Homo sapiens: one gene and its partners. The protein of the gene in region 1 purifies or fractionates together with the protein of each later gene. This does not show direct contact. Each region holds a gene or a part of one and is shown in the gene's direction. Other genes may lie near its edges.

Evidence for each region.
Region 2: the proteins of MAK (region 1) and LTF purify together in Homo sapiens (affinity purification with mass spectrometry; one large-scale study listed by BioGRID and IntAct). This does not show direct contact.
Region 3: the proteins of MAK (region 1) and FLG purify together in Homo sapiens (affinity purification with mass spectrometry, with the first as the bait; one large-scale study listed by BioGRID). This does not show direct contact.
Region 4: the proteins of MAK (region 1) and MRPL39 purify together in Homo sapiens (affinity purification with mass spectrometry; one large-scale study listed by BioGRID and IntAct). This does not show direct contact.
Region 5: the proteins of MAK (region 1) and CNOT1 purify together in Homo sapiens (affinity purification with mass spectrometry; one large-scale study listed by BioGRID and IntAct). This does not show direct contact.
Region 6: the proteins of MAK (region 1) and EIF2S1 purify together in Homo sapiens (affinity purification with mass spectrometry; one large-scale study listed by BioGRID and IntAct). This does not show direct contact.

What each region holds. Positions count from the first base shown.
Region 1 is NC_000006.12:10,793,508-10,797,303, reverse strand, and holds part of MAK (serine/threonine-protein kinase MAK), read left to right. Parts: intron 1-994; coding exon 995-1,306; intron 1,307-3,796. UniProt on the Homo sapiens protein: Essential for the regulation of ciliary length and required for the long-term survival of photoreceptors. Phosphorylates FZR1 in a cell cycle-dependent manner. Plays a role in the transcriptional coactivation of AR.
Region 2 is NC_000003.12:46,451,400-46,455,195, reverse strand, and holds part of LTF (lactotransferrin isoform 1 preproprotein), read left to right. Parts: intron 1-835; coding exon 836-891; intron 892-3,796. UniProt on the Homo sapiens protein: Transferrins are iron binding transport proteins which can bind two Fe(3+) ions in association with the binding of an anion, usually bicarbonate. Lactoferricin binds to the bacterial surface and is crucial for the bactericidal functions.
Region 3 is NC_000001.11:152,311,609-152,315,404, reverse strand, and holds part of FLG (filaggrin), read left to right. Parts: coding exon 1-86; intron 87-447; exon of another isoform or gene 448-657; coding exon 658-3,796.
Region 4 is NC_000021.9:25,597,258-25,601,053, reverse strand, and holds part of MRPL39 (large ribosomal subunit protein mL39), read left to right. Parts: intron 1-1,187; coding exon 1,188-1,255; intron 1,256-3,639; coding exon 3,640-3,752; intron 3,753-3,796.
Region 5 is NC_000016.10:58,546,253-58,550,048, reverse strand, and holds part of CNOT1 (CCR4-NOT transcription complex subunit 1), read left to right. Parts: intron 1-150; coding exon 151-330; intron 331-1,415; exon of another isoform or gene 1,416-1,550; intron 1,551-2,366; coding exon 2,367-2,483; intron 2,484-2,752; coding exon 2,753-2,863; intron 2,864-3,299; coding exon 3,300-3,377; intron 3,378-3,550; coding exon 3,551-3,728; intron 3,729-3,796.
Region 6 is NC_000014.9:67,377,046-67,380,841, forward strand, and holds part of EIF2S1 (eukaryotic translation initiation factor 2 subunit 1), read left to right. Parts: intron 1-3,613; coding exon 3,614-3,720; intron 3,721-3,796. UniProt on the Homo sapiens protein: Member of the eIF2 complex that functions in the early steps of protein synthesis by forming a ternary complex with GTP and initiator tRNA. This complex binds to a 40S ribosomal subunit, followed by mRNA binding to form a 43S pre-initiation complex (43S PIC).

The sequences.
Region 1 (3,796 bases):
GGGGTCCTTTCCCTCTCATGCAAGCAGTCAGGTGACTGATCTAGATAAAACTCAAACAGTGATCATTTTTCATAATATTTTTATATTTTCTTCCCATAAATGTCTTCTCTTTGCTGGTATACCGATGAAATAAACTTCAACAGTATGTGTTTGTTGTCCCCTCTTTAGATTTTTTTTTTATTACTAGTAGGTATATTGTTGTACTCAGGCTGAGAGTAACCCGGAATTTTACATACAGCTCTGGTTAATCATTTCAAATAATCTATATGGAAGATTTTCTTAATTCACTTTTTAATGTCTTTGAGTGTACTCTAAACCATTATTGGTGTGTAGTATTTTAGCTTGAAGTAATCACATTAATTTAGCCAATGTCTATAAATTACATTTTATTTTCACTAACAAATCTTTAAATAAATAGAACAGCTGTTTTGCTTAGATGTTATAATAACAAGTGAGCTTTCTATTTTTTCCTACTAGTACTTTTTTTTTTTTTTTTTTGAGGTGGAGTCTCGCTGTGTTGCCTAGGTTGAAGTGCAGTGGCACAATCTTGGCTCACTACAATCTCCTCCTCCCAGGTTCAAGCGATTCTCATGCCTCACCCTCCCGTATAACTGGGGTTACAGGCATCCACCAACACGCCTGGCTAATTTTTGTATTTTTAGTAGAGACTGGGTTTCACCATGTTGGTCGGGCTGGTCTTGAACTCCTGACCGCAAGTGATCCTCCCACCTCATCCTCCCAAAGTGCTAGGATTATAGGCGTGAGCCACCATGCCCAGCCACTTTTAATTTTTTAATGCAATTTATTTCTCAAATCATTTTTTTCTGGTTATCTTTTAAAAGAGGCACTGTATAGGGAATGATGGCTGCTTTCTAAATCTTTGAAGCTCATGTGGGCTAATGATAAATGCCTCGCACAGGGCCAACCATAGTTTATGTGCAATACATTTAGGTGGAACTGTTTTCCATTTGTTGTTTTCTCTGTGTTTTTATAGGCATTGAAACACCCATATTTTCAAGTTGGTCAGGTATTAGGCCCTTCGTCAAATCATCTGGAATCAAAACAGTCTTTAAATAAGCAGCTGCAACCATTAGAATCAAAGCCATCTTTAGTTGAGGTAGAGCCTAAGCCTCTGCCGGATATAATCGATCAGGTTGTTGGACAACCCCAGCCAAAAACTAGCCAGCAGCCACTGCAGCCCATTCAGCCGCCACAGAACCTGAGCGTCCAGCAACCTCCAAAGCAACAGAGTCAGGAGAAACCGCCACAAACGCTATTCCCGAGCATCGTCAAAAACATGCCAACTGTGAGTAGCCAGTCATGACACTTGCAATGAAATAGTTTGACTCGTGCAATTAAGATTTTTTTCGAGGCATTTCTAATAATGTTGGAAAAGATATAAAAGATTTTTCTTTGTTAAAGACCCTGAGTCCTCTGGTTGGAGCTTGACATGAGATCACTTAAAATTCTAATATGGTTTATAAAAAGAAAAACTTTCAGGATAAAAGTAACCAAGTTTACATGCTACAGTCTTCAGTCTTTTTTCTTTTTCTTTTTTTGAGACGGAGGTTCGCTTTTGTTGCCTAGGCTGGAGTGCAGTGGCACGACCTTAGCTCACTGCAATCTCTGACTCCTGGGTTCAAGCGATTCTCCTGCCTCAGCCTCCCAAGTAGCTGGGATTACAGACGCCCACCACCACGCCTGGATATTTTTTTGTATTTTTAGTAGAGATGGGGTTTCACCATGTTGTCCAGGCTGGTCTTGAGTTCCTGACTGCAAGTGATACACCCGCCTTGGCCTCCCAAAGTTCTGGGATTACAGGCATGAGCCACTGCACCTGGGCTTTTCTTTTTTATTTCTTGAGACGGAGTTTCACTCTATTTGCCCAGGCTGGAGTGCAATGGCACGATCTTGGCTCACTGCAACCTCCACCTCCCAGGTTCAAGCAGTTCTCTTGCCTCAGCTTCCTGAGTGGCTGGGATTATAGGCACCCACCACCACACCCAGCTAATTTTTGTATTTTTAGTGGAGACCATGTTGGCCAGGCTGGTCTCGAACTCCTGACCTCAGATGATCCACCCATCTCGGCCTCCCAAAGTGCTGGGATTACAGGCGTGAGCCACCAAGCCCGGCCTAAAATTCTTTCAATGCAGAAGAATTCAAAGAAAGAATTTAAAAGAATCGGGTACTCCAGAGTACTGATCCTAAATCTTAAGAATTTTTAACAGTACTTTCATTTTACAGTGTTCTTAAATGCTAAGGAACATGGAGAGAATGGGTTTTTATTTATTATTATTATTATTATTATTTTGAGACAGAGTTTTGCTCTTGTTGCCCAGGCTGGAGTGCAATGGTGTGATCTCAGCTCACCACAACCTCCACCTCCCAGGTTCAAGCAATCCTCCTGCCTCAGCCTCCTGAGTAGCTCGGATTACAGGCATGTGCCACCATGCCCAGCTAATTTTGTATTTTTAGTAGAGATGGGGTTTCTCCATGTTGGTCCGGCTGGTCTTGAACTCCTGACCTCAGGTGATCCACCCTCCTTGGCCTCCCAAAGTGCTTGGATTACAGGCCTGAGCCACCGCACCTGGCCAGAATAGGTTTTTAAAGTGTCAGGCATAGTATAAAACTTTTTCTTCCATCTTTTGTTCAGCTCCAGGAGCTCTTCAGTTGCTGTAGTATTTTAGCTGTCCCACTGGGTATACACTCCCAAATGTGTTTGCATTATGGCATTTTAGGATGGAAATCGGTCTTATACAGCACTGTATCTATTTCCTTCCAGTCCCCAACTGCCCCACCAACCTAGATAAGCAAGGCCTCCTCGTCCCCCAATAGCACTAATCACATTCTAACATACTGTTAATTACTTCTTATGTTTATTGTTTATTTGTCTCTTCCTCTGGAATGCAGCAAGCTCAGTGAGGTCAGGAATGTTTGTGTGTTTATCAGTACAGCCTCAGCACCCCGACCAGTGCCTGCCACATGGTAGATTCTCAGTAGATATTTGTTCAGTGAATGAAGGAATGAATAATTGCCCACATGACTTGTAAACCACCTCTGGGGTCCTGGGGAGTCCACTTTTATCTTTGGAACAGTTCTGAATATTAGAAAGTTCTTCCTTAATACTGGGTAAAATCTGGTTTTCTAGCTTTTAATGAAGGCTAATCACTTTTCTAGAAAGGCAGCCTTTTAGATATTTGAAAATAGCCCTTATATTATCTGCCCTTTTCTCTAGAGAAACTTCTCCAATTCCCTTAAGGGCTCTGCATATAACACCATTCACCAATGACTGATAACTCTCAGTTCCTATTATGAATGTGTCTTTAAGTCCCCTCTCATCTTGCTTTCCACTTAGAATGAGGTTGCCAGAGCTAGAGGCAGACAGCAGGCAGGGAATATAGAGCAGGGCGAATCACCTCCGACATTCTAAACCATATGTGCACTCGTGCCACCAACGATGACAGTCCTCCCCATGACCCCTTGGAAGATGCATCAATTGTTGACTCATATTGTGAGGGAAGGAAAGGAAGTTAATATTTATTGAGTAGCTTCCAAGTGCCATGCATATGCGAGGGACGCTGTGTGCATTCTCTAAGTTAAAGAGAATAACCTAGCCCCCAGCCCCGCCACACACACATTTTTATATAGGTGAGTTCCAGAGCTGGGATTAAGTACTGTGTTAACTAAAATTTCTAAGTATACCTGTTTTTTCACAAATGCTTCTCCTAAATTGCATATTCTGTACCTCTGACTTGTGTATTTCATCTCTAGGATTCAAAAAGTTGCAAGATCTCTT
Region 2 (3,796 bases), on another chromosome or scaffold:
GGGGACGAGAGGAGGTCTGTTCTCCTACTGCTGTGTGTCCAAAGAGAGTGCAGGCCTGCCCAGTGTGTGTTCCCCTCCAGCCTTCCGGGCCCAACTGTGCCCCCAACTTCTCACCAGCCCCACGGGCAGTCACTGTGGCTGTGGGCCCTCCTGTTACCTCAGAGAGCCCTGAATCCAACTTGGCTGCCCTGTTGTCCTGGGTTCCTCATACTAATTTCTGCCGCCTGCCTAACCACAGCAGGACTGAAGGCATCTTGTCATGAGATGTCCAGTCCTGGCTCCTGGTTGGGCAGGACCGCTGCAGTGTCCAGGCTGATGTCCTTCTGCCCACCTGGGCCTCTCCCCGTGGCTGAAGGACAGTGAGCAATGCCTGATTCGCCCCCATCCTCTCTGCCCCCACGCGGAGGCTGAGCTCCCCCTTTTCCCATTCTGTCTGCTGGCACTAGCGTATTTTTGCAGAGGGAGGCCTCCACACTTCCCCACTGGCCAGGGCACACCTGCACACTCAGTCCTGAGGAAAACAGCCACATGAACAGTGATGCTAAGGCTTTACCCTCTTGGGTAGAGGCTTCAAAACTCTCCTTTATATAGAAAAAAGTTTTGTCCTCTTAGCCCTCAAAGCAGAAGATGGGGGCCTCTGGCTAGCACCTGAGTCATTCTTCAGTATCTACCTGGAGGGGGCCCCTACCTTCCCAGCTGGGATGCCCCAAAGCTTCAGAGCCCTGCCCTGCAGGGAGTAGAAACCCATAGATGCTGAGTGCCAGGGCTACTGTTCCACAGGGAGGGGCTGGGGAGGGCTGCCTGTGCTTACCCCTGATGGTTTCTCTTTTCACAGGTGTCTGAGAGACGGGGCTGGAGACGTGGCTTTTATCAGAGAGAGCACAGTGTTTGGTAAGAGCAGGGTAATGAGCCGTGGGTACTGACCCCTTTTATCTTACTTGATCATGACTCTGACCTTTGAGCTAATTAGATTCCTAAGTTCATGGCAGACCATTTTCAAGATTCCTACAGGGCACAGCTCTGATTTTATGATCTTTCATATTTTAAATGATCAGTTTTCTTCAAACCTCCTGTGCCTACTGCCTTTCTCTTCCCCTCATAGACACCCATGCCTAGGTGCTTGGCAATGCGTCCTCCAGTCCTCCAAGACACATGTGCTCATGCAGAACAGATTGTGCTGGTTTGTGTTTCCGGTTTCTGGGTTCATAGAGGTTTTAGTGAGCATTAGAAATCCTGCTACTTGGGTTTTCTGCTCAGCATTTTGTTTTAGAGGTTTATCGGTATTGTTGTATACATGTCTAGCTCAGGGGTCCTAACAGTTGAGGAGTGTTCCGTGGAATACATCCACCTTTTACTTCTCTGTCACCATAGTGATGGACAGAGGTTGTGCTCTCTTTTCCTCTACCACATGCAGCCACACGACTGATACCTTCACCTGTGTTCCTTACTTACGTGCTGGACAGCGTCCCTCCTGGACTTATAATAAAGCAGTTGATGAGTATGTAGAGGCTAAACACACTGCACCCAGGACTAGTGGACATAAGCTCACTACATTTCATGCAAGACCAATAGAGACAGGGCTACTATATTCCACCCAGGGCCACTAGAGAAAGTGACAGACACCCACATTCACTCAGGACCATCAGAGACACACCCCACATCCACCCAGGACCACCAGAGAAAGAGACAACACCCACATTCACCTAGGACCATCAGAGACAGACCCCGCATTCATCAGAGGCCACCAGAAACAGACCTCCACATGCACCCAGGGCCACCAGAGACAGACCCCACATGCACCCAGGATCACCAAGCTGCTGTCTGGAATGACACTCTGCAAGTGTTCTAATTTCCCCACAACTTCAGTTAGAAGTATTTTTGACTTTCATACTTTTTGTCCGAATGATGGTTGTAATGCAATAGATAGTTCGTTTTATTTTTAATTTTCATTTCTCTGACAGCTGGTGAGTTTGATCATTTCAACATATTTGCTAGCCGTTTGGGCTTCCCTTTCTTATTTTGTGACATTTGACTACTTTTTAAATTGAGTTTCACACCTTGTTTCTGCATGATTTTGATTCAAGGACAGAAGTTCCTTCTATCTAGGTATCAAACTATTGCTGATTTTAAACTTTAGTAAAACCTCTTCTCAGTCAAAAATCTGACAACGGTAGTCTCTGTTGATCAAAAATCCTTGATATTGATAAGGTCAAATCCACAAGCCTCACCTTGTTGGTTTGTAGTTTTGAGATATTTCAAAGATGCCCTTCTTCACACCCAAATCATAATTATTTCCTAAAATAAGATTTGAAGATCCCCTTCCTCATCTATTTATATGTGCTCTACCTAGAAAGTCAGATATAGATTTGGCTTTAGCATTTTATCCCCTTTACAGTGAGGCAATTTACCTTACAATAAAAAAAGTATATTTTTTCTGCCATATGTGAAGCCAATTCTACACCAAGTTTGTATATATCCAAGTGGACCAGTTTCTGAGCTATTTTATTTCATTGGTGTATTTGCATTTTTTCTGCTTTTGTTACTGTGGCTTACCAATGGGTCTTACTATCTGGTGGAGAGAAAGAGAGAGAGCCAGTGAGAGGAAGAGAGAGAGAATGAGAGAGAGCTCCCTCTCCCCTCTCACTTTATTATTCCTTTTCAAATATACTCAGCTAAAACTTCAGAATTATTTTGTTGAATTTCTGGAAAAAATCATACTTTAATTTTGATTCGAATTGTACTGAATTTAAATTGTTCCATGAAAAATCAGCATATTTATAACATTAAGTTGTCCAGTCCATGGTGATGCTAAATCTCCCCCATTTGATCACACCTCTTTTTAGTTTCTTTGATAGAACTAAAATTTTTCCTTTGTGGGTCTGATGTGTCTTTGTGGGAGGCTAATTATTAGCTACTTAATGGTTTTAGTTGCTATTGTAACATCTTATAGTCCATATTGGTTTCTATTTGGTTATTGTTAATGAGGATAACATCTGATTTTTGTAGGTTGCTCTTATAACTTGTTACTCCTCTGAGTAGTTTTATTAGTTTCTGTTGGTTTCATTGGTTTTTTGTAGATGACGATATCATCTTTTTAAATAAGAGTGTGTCTTTTTCCTTCCAGTGTTTATATCTCACATTTCTTTTGTAAATTGTGTGATCTGGATATCTAGAATTGTGCTGGCATTGTAACAGTGGGCATCCTTGCCTTGTTCCTGATTTTGCGGTGAATGTCTACATTTTCTTCTTTTAGTAAGGTTTTTGCTGTAGATTAATGGCATTTATCAAGCCAATAACTTATGGCCAGGCGTGGTGTCTCACCCCTGTAATCCCAGCACTTTGGGAGACTGAGGCGGGTGGATCACATGAGGTCAGGAGTTCGAGACCAGCCTGGCCAACATGGTGAAACCCCATCTCTATTAAAAATACAAAAATTAGCTGGGCCTGGTGGCGTGCGCTTGTGGTCCCAGCTACTTGGGAGGCTGAGGCAAGAGAATCTCTTGACTCCAGGAGATGGAGGATGCAGTGAGCTGAGATCGCACCACTGCATTCCAGGCTGGGCAACAGAGTGAGACTCCGTCTCAAAACAAACAAAAAAACTTTACCGATTCTATCTATTACTATTTTTCTGAGGCTGAAAAAAAAACCACACACAAATAGATGTTGAACACATAAACAATCGTTCTGCATCTATTAAGATGAAGACGATCTCATGGTTTTCTGCCATTAAATGCAGATTACTTTAGTTTTTTTGATGTTCAGCCATTCTTTTGTTAATGGAATACACTGGTAAACC
Region 3 (3,796 bases), on another chromosome or scaffold:
ATTCAAAAAAAGATAAAAACACTGACACATTGAGTAAAAAAGAGCTGAAGGAACTTCTGGAAAAGGAATTTCGGCAAATCCTGAAGGTAAGAGTCTCTGACAAGACCAAAGATAGAGCATTTGTTTTTCTCATCAATAATCTAAGCAAGGGTTATTTTGAGCTCTTTGTGAACTATTTCTCTTAAAATAGGAAAAGAGTTAATCTTGTCTCAAAAGAGATAGATTTTATTTTCTTCCCCTATACCTGGATGTATATTATAAACATAAAGACACCCTCAGAGAAAAAAATATAAATATTTAAAAATTAATGTAAATTAGTTCTTAGTATTTTGGTATTTATAATATTCTCCCAAACATCAACATTACTAAGGGGATTTTTGTTAAAGACAACTAAGTAATGAATTATATACACTTCTGACTTTTAAAATAAGAAAAAGAGTCACTTACCCCATCAAATCTTGATACCTTACTAGTCTACATCTTTGTTCACATATAACACCTGAATGAGGATGAGACAAAAAAGTCTTAAAAAAAAAAAAGATTTTGTCCCACTTTTTAATACTCAAAGATCAGGTTCCTTAAATTAACTTTGAATTAATTGGCTGATAATGTGATTCTGTCTGATGCAGTCTCCCTCTGTGACTTCCCTCTGTACAGAATCCAGATGACCCAGATATGGTTGATGTCTTCATGGATCACTTGGATATAGACCACAACAAGAAAATTGACTTCACTGAGTTTCTTCTGATGGTATTCAAGTTGGCTCAAGCATATTATGAGTCTACCAGAAAAGAGAATTTACCGATATCAGGACACAAGCACAGAAAGCACAGTCATCATGATAAACATGAAGATAATAAACAGGAAGAAAACAAAGAAAACAGAAAAAGACCCTCAAGTCTGGAAAGAAGAAACAATAGAAAAGGGAATAAGGGAAGATCCAAGAGCCCAAGAGAAACAGGGGGGAAAAGGCATGAATCTAGTTCTGAAAAAAAAGAAAGAAAAGGATATTCACCTACTCATAGAGAAGAAGAATATGGAAAAAACCATCATAACTCAAGTAAAAAAGAGAAAAACAAGACTGAAAATACTAGATTAGGAGACAATAGGAAGAGGCTAAGTGAAAGACTTGAAGAGAAAGAAGACAATGAAGAAGGAGTATATGATTATGAAAATACAGGAAGAATGACTCAAAAATGGATACAATCAGGCCATATTGCCACATATTACACAATCCAGGATGAAGCCTATGACACCACTGATAGTCTATTAGAAGAAAACAAAATATATGAAAGATCAAGGTCATCTGATGGCAAATCATCATCTCAAGTGAACAGGTCAAGACATGAAAATACAAGCCAGGTACCATTGCAGGAGTCCAGGACAAGAAAGCGTAGGGGATCCAGAGTTAGCCAGGACAGGGACAGTGAGGGACACTCAGAAGACTCTGAGAGGCACTCTGGGTCGGCTTCCAGAAACCATCATGGATCTGCGTGGGAGCAGTCAAGAGATGGCTCCAGACACCCCAGGTCCCATGATGAAGACAGAGCCAGTCATGGGCACTCTGCAGACAGCTCCAGACAATCAGGCACTCGTCACGCAGAGACTTCCTCTCGTGGACAGACTGCATCATCCCATGAACAGGCAAGATCAAGTCCAGGAGAAAGACATGGATCCGGCCACCAGCAGTCAGCAGACAGCTCCAGACACTCAGCCACTGGGCGCGGGCAAGCTTCATCTGCAGTCAGCGATCGTGGACACCGGGGGTCTAGCGGTAGTCAGGCCAGTGACAGTGAGGGACATTCAGAAAACTCAGACACACAATCAGTGTCAGGCCACGGAAAGGCTGGGCTGAGACAGCAGAGCCACCAAGAGTCCACACGTGGCCGGTCAGGGGAACGGTCTGGACGTTCAGGGTCTTCCCTCTACCAGGTGAGCACTCATGAACAGCCTGACTCTGCCCATGGACGGACCGGGACCAGCACTGGAGGAAGACAAGGATCGCACCACGAGCAGGCACGAGACAGCTCCAGGCATTCAGCGTCCCAAGAGGGTCAGGACACCATTCGTGGACACCCGGGGTCAAGCAGAGGAGGAAGGCAGGGATCCCACCACGAGCAATCGGTAAATAGGTCTGGACACTCAGGTTCCCATCACAGCCACACCACATCCCAGGGAAGGTCTGATGCCTCCCATGGGCAGTCAGGATCCAGAAGTGCAAGCAGACAAACACGAAATGAGGAACAATCAGGAGACGGCACCAGGCACTCAGGGTCACGTCATCATGAAGCTTCCTCTCAGGCTGACAGCTCTAGACACTCACAGGTGGGCCAGGGACAATCATCGGGGCCCAGGACAAGTAGGAACCAGGGATCCAGTGTTAGCCAGGACAGTGACAGTCAGGGACACTCAGAAGACTCTGAGAGGTGGTCTGGGTCTGCTTCCAGAAACCATCATGGATCTGCTCAGGAGCAGTCAAGAGATGGCTCCAGACACCCCAGGTCCCATCACGAAGACAGAGCTGGTCATGGGCACTCTGCAGACAGCTCCAGAAAATCAGGCACTCGTCACACACAGAATTCCTCTAGTGGACAGGCTGCGTCATCCCATGAACAGGCAAGATCAAGTGCAGGAGAAAGACATGGATCCCGCCACCAGCTCCAGTCAGCAGACAGCTCCAGACACTCAGGCACTGGGCACGGACAAGCTTCATCTGCAGTCAGAGACAGTGGACACCGAGGGTCCAGTGGTAGTCAGGCCACTGACAGTGAGGGACATTCAGAAGACTCAGACACACAGTCAGTGTCAGGCCATGGACAGGCTGGTCACCATCAGCAGAGCCACCAAGAGTCCGCACGTGACCGGTCAGGGGAAAGGTCTCGACGTTCAGGGTCTTTCCTCTACCAGGTGAGCACTCATAAACAGTCTGAGTCCTCCCATGGATGGACAGGGCCCAGCACTGGAGTAAGACAAGGATCCCACCATGAGCAGGCACGAGACAACTCCAGGCACTCAGCATCCCAAGATGGTCAGGACACCATTCGTGGACACCCGGGGTCAAGCAGAAGAGGAAGGCAGGGGTCCCACCACGAGCAATCGGTAGATAGGTCTGGACACTCAGGGTCCCATCACAGCCACACCACATCCCAGGGAAGGTCTGATGCCTCCCGTGGGCAGTCAGGATCCAGAAGTGCAAGCAGAACAACACGTAATGAGGAACAATCAAGAGACGGCTCCAGGCACTCAGGGTCACGTCACCATGAAGCTTCCTCTCATGCCGACATCTCTAGACACTCACAGGCAGGCCAGGGACAATCAGAGGGGTCCAGGACAAGCAGGCGCCAGGGATCCAGTGTTAGCCAGGACAGTGACAGTGAGGGACATTCAGAAGACTCTGAGAGGTGGTCTGGGTCTGCTTCCAGAAACCATCGTGGATCTGCTCAGGAGCAGTCAAGACATGGCTCCAGACACCCCAGGTCCCATCACGAAGACAGAGCCGGTCACGGGCACTCTGCAGACAGCTCCAGACAATCAGGAACTCCTCACGCAGAGACTTCCTCTGGTGGACAGGCTGCGTCATCCCATGAACAGGCAAGATCAAGTCCAGGAGAAAGACACGGATCCCGCCACCAGCAGTCAGCAGACAGCTCCAGACACTCAGGCATTCCGCGCAGACAAGCTTCATCTGCAGTCAGAGACAGTGGACACTGGGGGTCCAGTGGTAGTCAGGCCAGTGATAGTGAGGGACATTCAGAGGAGTCAGACACACAGTCAGTGTCAGGCCATGGACAGGATG
Region 4 (3,796 bases), on another chromosome or scaffold:
TCACTGCAAGCTCCGCCTCTGGGGTTCACACCATTCTCCCGCCTCACCCTCCCGATTAGCTGGGTCTACAGGCGCGCGCCACCACGCCTGGCTAATTTTTCTGTATTTTTAGTAGAGACGGGGTTTCACCATGTTAGCTAGGATGGTCTCGATCTCCTGACCTCGTGATCTGCCTGCCTCGGCCTCCCAAAGTGCTGGGATTACAGGCGTGAGCCACCGTGCCCGGCCCTTAGCGTTTATTTTTTACTTTAAGCATATATTTCCAAATTGGATGTATAGAGGAGGAGGAAATCTGAGTATAAGTAGACTACTGTAAAGAGCTGTGCTTAGGTGGTAATATTTCACCAGACAGGACCATTACTTTGGAAAGTGACAGCACTTTGGTGAAATGACAGGGTGTGGACTGTAATTTTGCTAAAACTAGGATTTTGGAATAGTAAGTATGGTAGGATCACGTGTCAAATTTTTTTTTTTTTTTAAAGAAGTAGATATACCTAAAATATTTGAAAGAAGCTCAAGAAATGATTCTAAGAACAAAACCCCAAAAAGAAGATATTTAGGGGATATAAAAGAAATGTAACATTTTGTATCCATTAAGTTATTTATCTACTTACTAAATATCTTGTTCTTTTGGAATTTTTTTTTTTTTTTTTTTTTTAAGACGGAGTCTCGCTGTGTTGCCAAGGCTGGAGTGCAGTGGCGCGATCTTGGCTCACTGCAACCTGCACCTCCCAGATTCAAGCGATTCTTCTGCCTCAGACTCCCAAGTAGCTGGGATTACAGTTGCCTGCCACCAAGCCCGGCTAATTTTTATATTTCTGGTAGAGATGGGGTTTTACTATGTTGGCCAGGCTGGTCTCAAATTCTTGACCTCAGGTGATCCACCTGCCTTGGCTTCCCAGAATTTTTACATCTGGTAACTGTATGAAATCTGTATGGCAATAGCATTTGTGAAGAAAACTTGAATGTTTAAAAAATATTTGTGATTTGGGGTTGACAATCTTTTGGCTAAGGGAAATTTGATAGAGCTCTGGCAAGCAGCTGGAAGAATGGCAACCATTTTATAATTTGTAGAGTTGGGAGAGAGTGCTAATCCTTTTTATGGTCTAAATATTCAGTTGTTGCAAATTAGTAACTTTCTGTTGGGGCAGATTTGACTTTGCTTTTTATTTTGGTTGGATTTACAGTAATTTCTGGTGCCTTCTGTTATGACGTAGTTTTGGATAGCAAACTTGATGAGTGGATGCCAACAAAAGTAAGTGTATTCTTCTGGAGTATTAATTTTAGAGTGTCTGCCTTTCTTTGTTAGAATGATTCCTATGTTAGTATTGTTGAATGGTACTGCATGTTGAGAACATTTAAAAGAATCTATGTATCTATCTATGTATCTATGTATCTGTCTGTCTGTCTATCTATCTATCTATTGGTGTTGTTGCTTTTTCAGCCTATTTAAGACAGAGGGATGTGAATGAGAGTATTTACATCAACATGGTCAGTTGTCTTGAAACTTTATGTTCTGCTTGACCTTTTCTTGATGTTCCTTCTAAGTGGTTTTAAGGTAGTGGTTTTCAAGAGGCCCAGGATATAAAATATAAAAACTTAACTATCTTGACCCATGTGGTAGTAGGGGGCCTGGAGCCATACTTGTTTGGGTCGCTGGAGCACAATTTGAAAACCACTCCCCTAAACCATTTTAACTTGTTGCATACAGTGAGGTCCCTGTATATACAAGGGTCACATTGAGAGCTGGGTGAATTAAAGAATCAGACTTTGACAAAGCTAATACTCAAGCATCAACAAATGAAATATTAACAAACTAAACTCTTTGTGAATGGTTTGCCTTTGTAATGAGGATGGTCCTTGTTGGTCTGGGACTTGGGTAGCAACAGAGCCTAACAAGGACAGTCTAGATCAGGTGCTCAGTAGGTAAGGGGTGCTGATGGTTATCAAAGATCAAGCCTGGAGATGTAGTTCTGATTGGGGAGAATAGGCAAATACCTAATTCTTAATTAAACAAAACTATATGTCCTATGTATTGGGAGTCTGGAGATCTGAAAAGGGGAAGCAGTGTAGCACATCATTTTATCATTTCCACTGTGTACATTCTTTTTATATTTAATATCTCTGAAAATATATAAGCCTTATATTAGATGGTATCTTGCAATTAGAATTTGTAGTGTTTTTTTTTTTTTTTTTTCCCCTTAGTAATACATCTTAGATTTAGTAAAATACTGTAGTGGTTCTTAAAAGCAAGGATTTTGGAGTAAGGGCAGATCCAGCTTTAAATTTGGCCTTGGAAATTACTTTTTGTATAATCCTGCGCATATTACATAATATTGAGAGGGAGAGAAGAGGGAATCAAGAAAGAATGAGAAAAAGGGAGAGGGAAGAGAGAGAGAAGAGGATGGAAAGAGGGGAGGGAAGGGATTGGAACTGTTTCTTCATGACCTCTGGGCTCCTGTCAGTGTAGCTTCTTCCTTTTCAAGTATGTCTCCAAATTTAAGATTTTTTTTACTGGGGCAAGTTAGGTAAAAACTGAGGTCAAGATTTAATTTTCATTATCTGTGAAACATAACTGCTTTTTTCTTTCTTTCTCTCTCTTTTTTTTTTTTTTTAAAGAGATGGGGGTCTCACTATGTTGCCTAGGCTGGCCTTGAACTTCTGGGCCCAAGCAATCTTCCTGCCTCAGCCTTTCTAGTAGCTGGGACTGCAGGTGTATGCCACTGTGCTTGGCTTTTGCATTTTTCTTTTTTAAAAGATAAAACCTTACAAAAGAAATATGTGAGCTGATTGCAGACTCCATGGAGTTGGGTTGAGTAGACAGCTTAAAGAAAGTAGGGTAGAGTTACATTGAAGGAATAGTTGTATTAAACCATGAATGTTGATTTTTTTATACAGTAAATTATTCTTTATAGAGAAGTCATTTCATGCAAAAAAGTCTAATAGGATTTTTATGGAAATAATTTCATTATAAAAATTACTTGTGTAATAGTGCTTGGTTTTTTCTGTGTTATTAGTAATGATTTACAGTATGAAAGCTCAATTAGAATTTTTATTAAAAATCTTAAACACATTGTTAATGTGTATTCTTCATCATTTTAATTGTGTAAAATTGACATTTTTATTAAGCAGAAACTTTTAATATTGGACATGCTATACTTTGCACAGGGTGGGTGATGATGCTACATTTCTAGTGAAACTTTCTTAATTAAGAAAACAATAATTTTTCCCCATATATTTAATAAACTTAGATTTATTCATACTGTAAACACATTTTTATGTCTTGCTATTTATTTATTGGCATTTTTACTTGCTGCATCATAGTTTTAATAAACATTTTAAGGTTGTATAATTTGGATGAAATTATATAATTTGGATAAAATTTCTGTATAGTTTTCTCTTTAATAATTAGTATTAATGAAGGCTGACACCTTAATTACAGGTAAATAAGAAGTTTTATAGTTTATGGTCCAAAACTTCAGTTGTTGCAAATTAGTAACTTTCTGTTCTAACAAATTTGATTTTATCTTTTATTTTAGTTGGATTTGCAGTACTAAGCATAGAGTTTTGTTTCAACTGGCTTATGGAGAAATGCTTTTCAGTGAATTGTTACTAAAGGTTATTACTTTCATTTTTAAGGAGAACTTACGTTCCTTCACAAAAGATGCTCATGCTTTAATTTATAAAGATCTTCCATTTGAAACTCTGGAAGTTGAAGCAAAAGTGGCATTGGAAATATTTCAACACAGCAAGTAAGTGTTGGCTTTCTTTAAATCAAGGCTAACTCTCCCAGTAT
Region 5 (3,796 bases), on another chromosome or scaffold:
ATAGCATCTATCTGGTGTGAAGGAAAGTCATTCTTTAGCATCTAGTTAGTTTTGCAAGGAGCCATGTGCTGTATAGTATGGTTCATAGAAACCAAGTGTTATTTTATCATAGTGTAATTCTGTGCTTCCCATGTCGTATTGACCGGCTAGGTTGAAGAGCTAAAGGAAACGGTGAAAGAAGAATTTATGCCTTGGGTTTCACAGTATCTGGTTATGAAGAGAGTCAGTATTGAGCCAAACTTTCATAGCCTGTATTCAAACTTCCTTGACACGCTGAAGAATCCTGAATTTAACAAGATGGTTCTGAATGAGACCTACAGAAACATTAAAGTAAGAGTTGGTTCTTATATTTCCTTTAATTATTGCTTTGAATTTGGAAATATTTGATTATATAGGTAGGATTTTTGCTATTTTTCCATATATATTGTCAATATTAGGTACCTCTGGAAATTGCTGTAGATTTTGTTTCTTATATGGAACTAAATTTTATGCAGAACTTAAATTTATAGGCATACCCTGTGCCTTTTCTTTGAAAGTAACCACTATTATGAATTGTTTTTGTCATGCCATGCATGATTTTAGAACTTTACCACTGTTATACATAAGCAGCATAGTATTGGTTAGCATATTCTGTATGGTGTCGCCCTCTGTACATCCTTTTCTTTTTTTTTCACTTACTTTTTTTTCTCCCCTGGATATTATTCATGATAATGATAATGCTCTTTGCTGTAGCCCCCTTTTTTTTTTTTTTTCAATTTTTTTGAGATGTGGTCTCACTCTGTTGCTTAGGCTGGAGTGCAGTGGCACGATCTCGGCTCACTGCAGCCTCCACCTCCCAGGTTCAAGCAGTTCTCTTACTTCAGCCTCCCGAGTAGCTGGGATTATAGTTGTACCGCCATGCCCAGCTAATTTTTATATTTTTAGTAGAGACGGGGTTTAATCATATTGGCCAGGCTGGTCCCGAACTCCTGACCTTAGGTGATCCACCCTCCTCGGCCTCCCAGAGTTCTGGGATTACAGGCCTGAGCCACTGTGCCCGGCCAGTCCTCTTTTTTAAAAAACAGAAAAATATAGTCTTGTAGAAAACCATTGTATGTATTTGTATTGCTGCTGGGCATTTGTGTTGTTAATCACTTAAACTATTATAAACAATGCTGTCCTGAATGTTTTCGTTTGTATCTTGTAGTATTCAAGTGCAAGATATCTTTAGACTCTAAATCTGTTTGTGGAATAGCTGTTGTCTAGGAGTCTGTGCAGTTTAAGGTCAAATTCTACTGAGCTGAGGCTTATTCAACAAAATTCAAGTATTTTAATTTCTAAACCATCATTTATTTCTTAGGAGGAAAAACTTCTAGAACCAGCATACAGCTGTGGTCATTCTTTGCTCAATAACTTGGGTCATTGGCTTAGGAACCAGCACTATATTTAAACCTGTGGATGGGAATATTCCCCATTCTTGGTTACGCTGTAGTGCAAAAGAATTCCTGGCTCTCTGTTGCACAGCTGACTTGTGCCATTCTGCTGTTGCTGTATAGAGTTAAGGAACATGGCTCTATTTCGTTTTTATTATCTGATAGCAAGGGTGGTTGGGATACATAAAAGTTTCCACATACTCTGTAGCAAAGTTTCAAGACCATGTTTTTTAAACAGAAGTTTAAATATAGCCCTAAGTCAAGAGGTACCACAGAGTAGATGGGTATATACATGTGTGCATACCTGCAGCCAAAACACTCTCCTATGTTAGTTCTGCCCCCCCTTAGAAAAACAGTAACCGGAGAATCAGTTAAATGGTTTGGGTTTTTTAGAAATTTGAAAAGAAGTATATAAACAGTATTATACTATATCTCAGAAAGTTATCTTGGTTGGCTGCAGAGATTTGTTAATGACCTGGGTATACTGAAGATTGCAATAGGAGGCTAATTTGATTATATTCCTTTGTATGCTTGCTGCCTTTAAGGACTTAAGCATGGCTATCATCCTCATTTAAATTAATTTAGCACTTCAAAATAGCTTTGTAGTTAGGTCTCTGCTTTAAACCTAGCTAAGGTTTTCAGAGTTGAAAATACTTTTCTAGGGGAGGATAGCTGGCACATAACTTTGTGTTCTTTTTGAATTTTGTGCAATGTGTTTGTACCTATTTTGAAAAAATAAAATGTAAAGACTTCTTCAAGGTAAAAATAGCACTGTTGAATCATAAACACAGCAAAATGATATTGAGAATGATATACAGAGTAATTCTACTTTGGGGCCTGTTCTTAGAAATGATGACTTGTCTTTAGGATAGGATAATGGAATTCTCAAATACTTAGTTGAGTTTTCTTTCATAAGCTTATTCTCATATCTTTCTTAATCTTACACTATTTCAGGTGCTCCTGACCTCTGATAAAGCTGCAGCCAATTTCTCAGATCGTTCTTTGCTGAAGAACTTGGGACATTGGCTAGGAATGATCACATTAGCTAAAAACAAACCCATCTTACACACTGTGAGTTTCATCTAAATGTGTAAAAATTGAGAATCTTCAGCACATTATGATTACAAGTATTGGCTGTTTGGAGCTATTTAATGATTATTGGGGTTTTGTAAGATTTTGGCCCACGTTTTGAGTTGTTAACCCCTTTTTGTAAGGCAAGGACTAGACATTATGTTGATTCCTGTTTTGGGGATAAGCTTGGCAAAATACTTTTCTTTGGTTTTGTTATACCATTTTGGGGGGTATATTCCCCGCTTTTGAAAGTATTTTTCTTATTCTAGGACTTGGATGTGAAATCATTGCTGCTAGAGGCTTATGTTAAAGGACAACAAGAATTGCTCTATGTAGTGCCCTTTGTTGCCAAAGTCTTAGAATCTAGCATTCGTAGTGTGGTGAGTAGATTTTAATATTTTATTTATGACTAATTTCTAAGCATTGCTTTGTTTTAGCATGAGGTCAAGAGATTATATTCTTAGTTCTTGTGAGGTAAAGCTAGTTAAGTCTGTTTTCCTCTATGGCACTTGGATTTCCAATTTGAGAGGCTGGGTGAAATAAGAAAGATTATAATGGTTGGCTTTGGTTTTTGGTTTTTTGTTTTGTTTTGTTTTTGAAATGTGATATAGGTGAGAAGGCTAGGGGTTTTGTTATGGCTACAGAGGTATAAGTGTTTAACTATGTTTAACTGTTTTTGGTTATTTTTTAATCCTTGTTTTTTGTTTTTTATTTGTTTGACTCCCCCCTACCCCCTTATGTTGTATTGAATTGTTTTAAATAATCCAAATTAAAGGGCACATTTTGGGCCAGCTTAACATAATAGCTTTTCTTTAGGTTTTTAGGCCACCAAACCCTTGGACAATGGCAATTATGAATGTATTAGCTGAGCTACATCAGGAGCATGACTTAAAGGTAATTTACTGCTTCCTTGTCCTCTGGAACATTCTTTGCCTTCACATTATTAAAACTTACAGTGAAGGCAGGGTATTTCGGGGGAAGTACTATAATAACTGAAAGTAGAGTATATTATGAGTAAAACTAAAGTTTTCTTTTAAAAATTCTAATCCAACTCTGGAACTGTGCAGTTAAACTTGAAGTTTGAAATCGAGGTTCTCTGCAAGAACCTTGCATTAGACATCAATGAGCTAAAACCTGGAAACCTCCTAAAGGATAAAGATCGCCTGAAGAATTTAGATGAGCAACTCTCTGCTCCAAAGAAAGATGTCAAGCAGCCAGAAGAACTCCCTCCCATCACAACCACAAGTAAGTGTGCTAATTAGTCAAGGAAGGCTTCTGTTAGCTAGGATACTATCTTAAATGGTACTTGTCCA
Region 6 (3,796 bases), on another chromosome or scaffold:
TCCCAGTTGGTCCTATTATTTGTCATCTTAATTCTGTATGTTAGGATCTGATTCCAAACCTTTTTTCTCCCTGTCTTTTCGCCATTTCCTGCCTTTTCTCTCTTATCCAACATAGGCACACCATGATACATCATTTTAACGACTTTGTTGCCATTATTGTGAGCTTTTGCCTTGTTTTTCCTTCCATCCATCCAGCCTTGGATCAATGTTCCTGCCTTCTCTGTACTTGTAGACTGCTGGGTGCTACTAGGAAAAATCAGTCTTGCAGGTTGGTCCACTGCATATTCATGGTCTCCAGCCTCAGCTGTTCCACATTCTCTCTGCTCCTGGTCAGTTCTTCAGTAGTGGCTATTTTAGAGCTTTTCCACGTTCTTCCTCAGAAAACCACTCTATCCCTGCTCCCTGCCTCTTGGCTGGTATGCTCACTACCTATTTTATTTTATAAAGAAAATAGAAACCATTGCACAAGAACTACTTTTCCACTGTCTCAACAAACTTACATATCTCTGTCCCACCTGTCATTTCTTCCTATGCTGCTGTCACTGGAATTTGTGTCCTAATTGCTCTCAAACTAGTCTTGCCACCTATGCCCAGCTGCTGCTCAGAGATCTCTATTAGTTACTTTTTCTCTTGGGTCACCTTTCCCTTTATTGCTTTTACTCCATCAGCATAAAAATATCTCTAGTTTCTTCCATTTATACTATAAAACCCACTTCTCAACTTTTCCTTTACTTTCTCTTGGAGCAAACACTGCGTCCTCTGCTTTTAACAGCCACACTTGGCTATGTGTGGTAGCTCATGCCTGTAATCCCAGCACTATGTAAGGCTGAGGTGGGAGGATTGCTTGAGGCCAGGAGTTGGAGACCATCCTGGGCAGCATAGCAAGACTGCCATCTCTAAAAAAAAAAAAAATTAAAAGTAGCCAGGTGTGGTAGCATTTGCCTGTAGTAGTCCCAGCAACTTGGGAGGCTGAGGCAGGAGGATCACTTGAGTCCAGTGGTTTGAGGTTTCTGTGAGCTGTGATTTGTGATTGCACCACTGCACTCTAGTCTGGATGACAGAGTGAGACCTTGTCTCTTAAAAAAAAAAAAAAAGCCAGACTCTTTCAGTTCTCTATACTTGCTGTCTCTTTACCTCCCACTCCTTCCTAAATGTTAAGAGTTAGAGGGGGGAAAAAAGAGAATGAGTAGGACCCAAGACCATTAAGAGTCCCCCAGAAAGCCAACTCATCTGGGGTTCCAAATCCCTTCAAGTTTATTCTCATGTGACTTTTTTTTTTTTTTTTTTTTTTTGGTATATCACGTGGTAGAAAAGGTGGGAATAGTAATAATGATAACTAACATTTATATAATTCTAACAACAACCTGTGGTATAAATGCTATTATTATCCTTTTCTTACAGTTGAAGAAACTGAAGCTGAGATTAAATAATTTGTTCAAGGTCACACAGCTAACAAATCATAGAGCCAGGCAGTATTCAAACGCGTGCATTCTGGCTCCATCCAGAGTTTGCACTATTAGCCATTAAACACAACTTTATATTTCTGTCCTGCAGTCCTCAGTACATTTCTTAACTTGTCTCAACTGTCATCATCTGGCTTCTTTAGTTACCTCTTTAACTTCTAGTTCCAGCAACCCCTTGTTACCACTAAACCTTGGCGTGTGTTATTCCCTTTTCCTTAGCACTCTTTTCTTGCTTCATTCATGTAGGGACTGTCCAGATTTAACTAATGCTAGTTCTTTGCATTTTTCTTTTAATTACATAAAATTTCTGACATAGTTGGAAACAATGTTTTACCTTTCCAGACCTATTTTCCTCACTTATCAGTGATAACCACTATTCTGAAATTATGTATCAATATCATTTGTTTTTATTGTTTTACTACATATGTGTCTATTATCATTTTTTATTTAAAATGTAACCTATTGTATCTTTTTGTAGCTTGCATTTTTACATATAAGCCTATTATTAAGCAGGATTCCCCCACAATGATAGATGTATACTTGATCCATATTAATCTCTATATAGTATTTCATTGTGAGAATATGCTTTATCTGTTCCTCTATTAAGAGTTGTTTAGGTAATTTTCCCTTCTGTGCCATTTGTCAAACAGGGCTGTGATGAATAGTGTATGTGTCTCTATATGTAGTTGTTTGAGAGTTTCTAATATATATGCCTAGGAGTGGAATTGTTGGGTCATAGGATTGATTATATATCTTTAAACTGACTTGGTTTCACCAAATCCTTGCCACAATTTGGTATATATCTGATTTTTTCTCCTTTTTCTAGTCTAATGAATTCACAGTAGTATCTTTTGATTTGCATACTCCTGATTGTTGGAGAGGTCAACAGTTTTTCATGTTTCTTAACCATTTGTATTTCTTCTGTGAAACATCTGTTCACCTCATTTGCCCATTTTCTGTTTATCATCTTGTTTCTTATACATTTATGTTGGTTGTCTTCTCGTTACTTTATGTTAGCTGAGTAAAAGTTCCCTCCACCCAAATTCTCTTGCCTTTTATTCCCAATAAGACCCCTTGCTTATTAAGCCTGATGCTTGCTCATGCTATTCCTTTTTTACATGACATAACTTTCTTTTTTTCTTTTTCTTTTTTTTTTTTTTTTTTGAGACGGAGTCTCGCTCTGTCGCCCAGGCTGGAGTGCAGTGGCGGGATCTCGGCTCACTGCAAGCTCCGCCTCCCGGGTTCACACCATTCTCCTGCCTCAGCCTCCCAAATAGCTGGGACTACAGGCGCCCGCCACTACGCCCGGCTAATTTTTTGTATTTTTAGTAGAGACGAGGTTTCACCGTTTTAGCCGGGATGGTCTCGATCTCCTGACCTCGTGATCCGCCCGCCTCGGCCTCCCAAAGTGTCTTTTTTTCTTTTTAATAGAGATGGAGGTCTTGCTATGTTGCCTAGACTGGTCTATGAACTCCTGGTCTCCAGTGATCCCCCTGCCTCAGCCTCCCAAAGTGCTGGGATTACAGGCATGAGTCACTGGTGCCCAGCCTTATGTATCATAACTTTTTTACAATAGTTCTACCTTTACTTTTTACAGTGCTACTCCTCTTTTAGTCTTTATTTCATATTTTCATTTGCTCACTCATTCAACAAACATGCCAGTTAATAAGACCCTGGTCCCTGTCCTGTGGCACTTAGGAGGGTCAGATGAAATGCTACTTTTTGCATGAAGCCCTTCCTGACCTCATTAACTGGAAGTAATACCTTTCTGTCCTGATGCCCACAGATGTACTGTTACATTTAAAAGTTTTTCCATGTTTTTTTTTTCTATTCAAGATAGATTATAAACTCCTTGAGGCAGGGACAGCTAATTGCATGGAAGTAATCAATTATAGTAGAATATCAGATGTGTTAGGCATTAAATTGCTTGTTTTAGTCAGATCACTAAAATTTTGATTTCACTAATAATCAGTTGGGGTGTAAGTGCAAAGCTAAGATTTGAATTCTAATTGTGACACTAAAGCCTTAACTATTATATGCATTAACTATTATATGCTTAACTATTATATGCATTGTTCCATAGTGTTTGGTTTCACATTTATCAGTAATATAACCTTGACCTTTTGTTATTTATTTATGTTTTTGACCAGAGACCCATCTATTTTGGATAGTTTAGATTTGAATGAAGATGAACGGGAAGTACTCATTAATAATATTAATAGGCGCTTGACCCCACAGGCTGTCAAAATTCGAGCAGGTAAATGATTTTTTAAATGATTTTTACAGTATTTTGCATGCATCAAAAAAGCTATTAAATAATGAGACTTACCAAA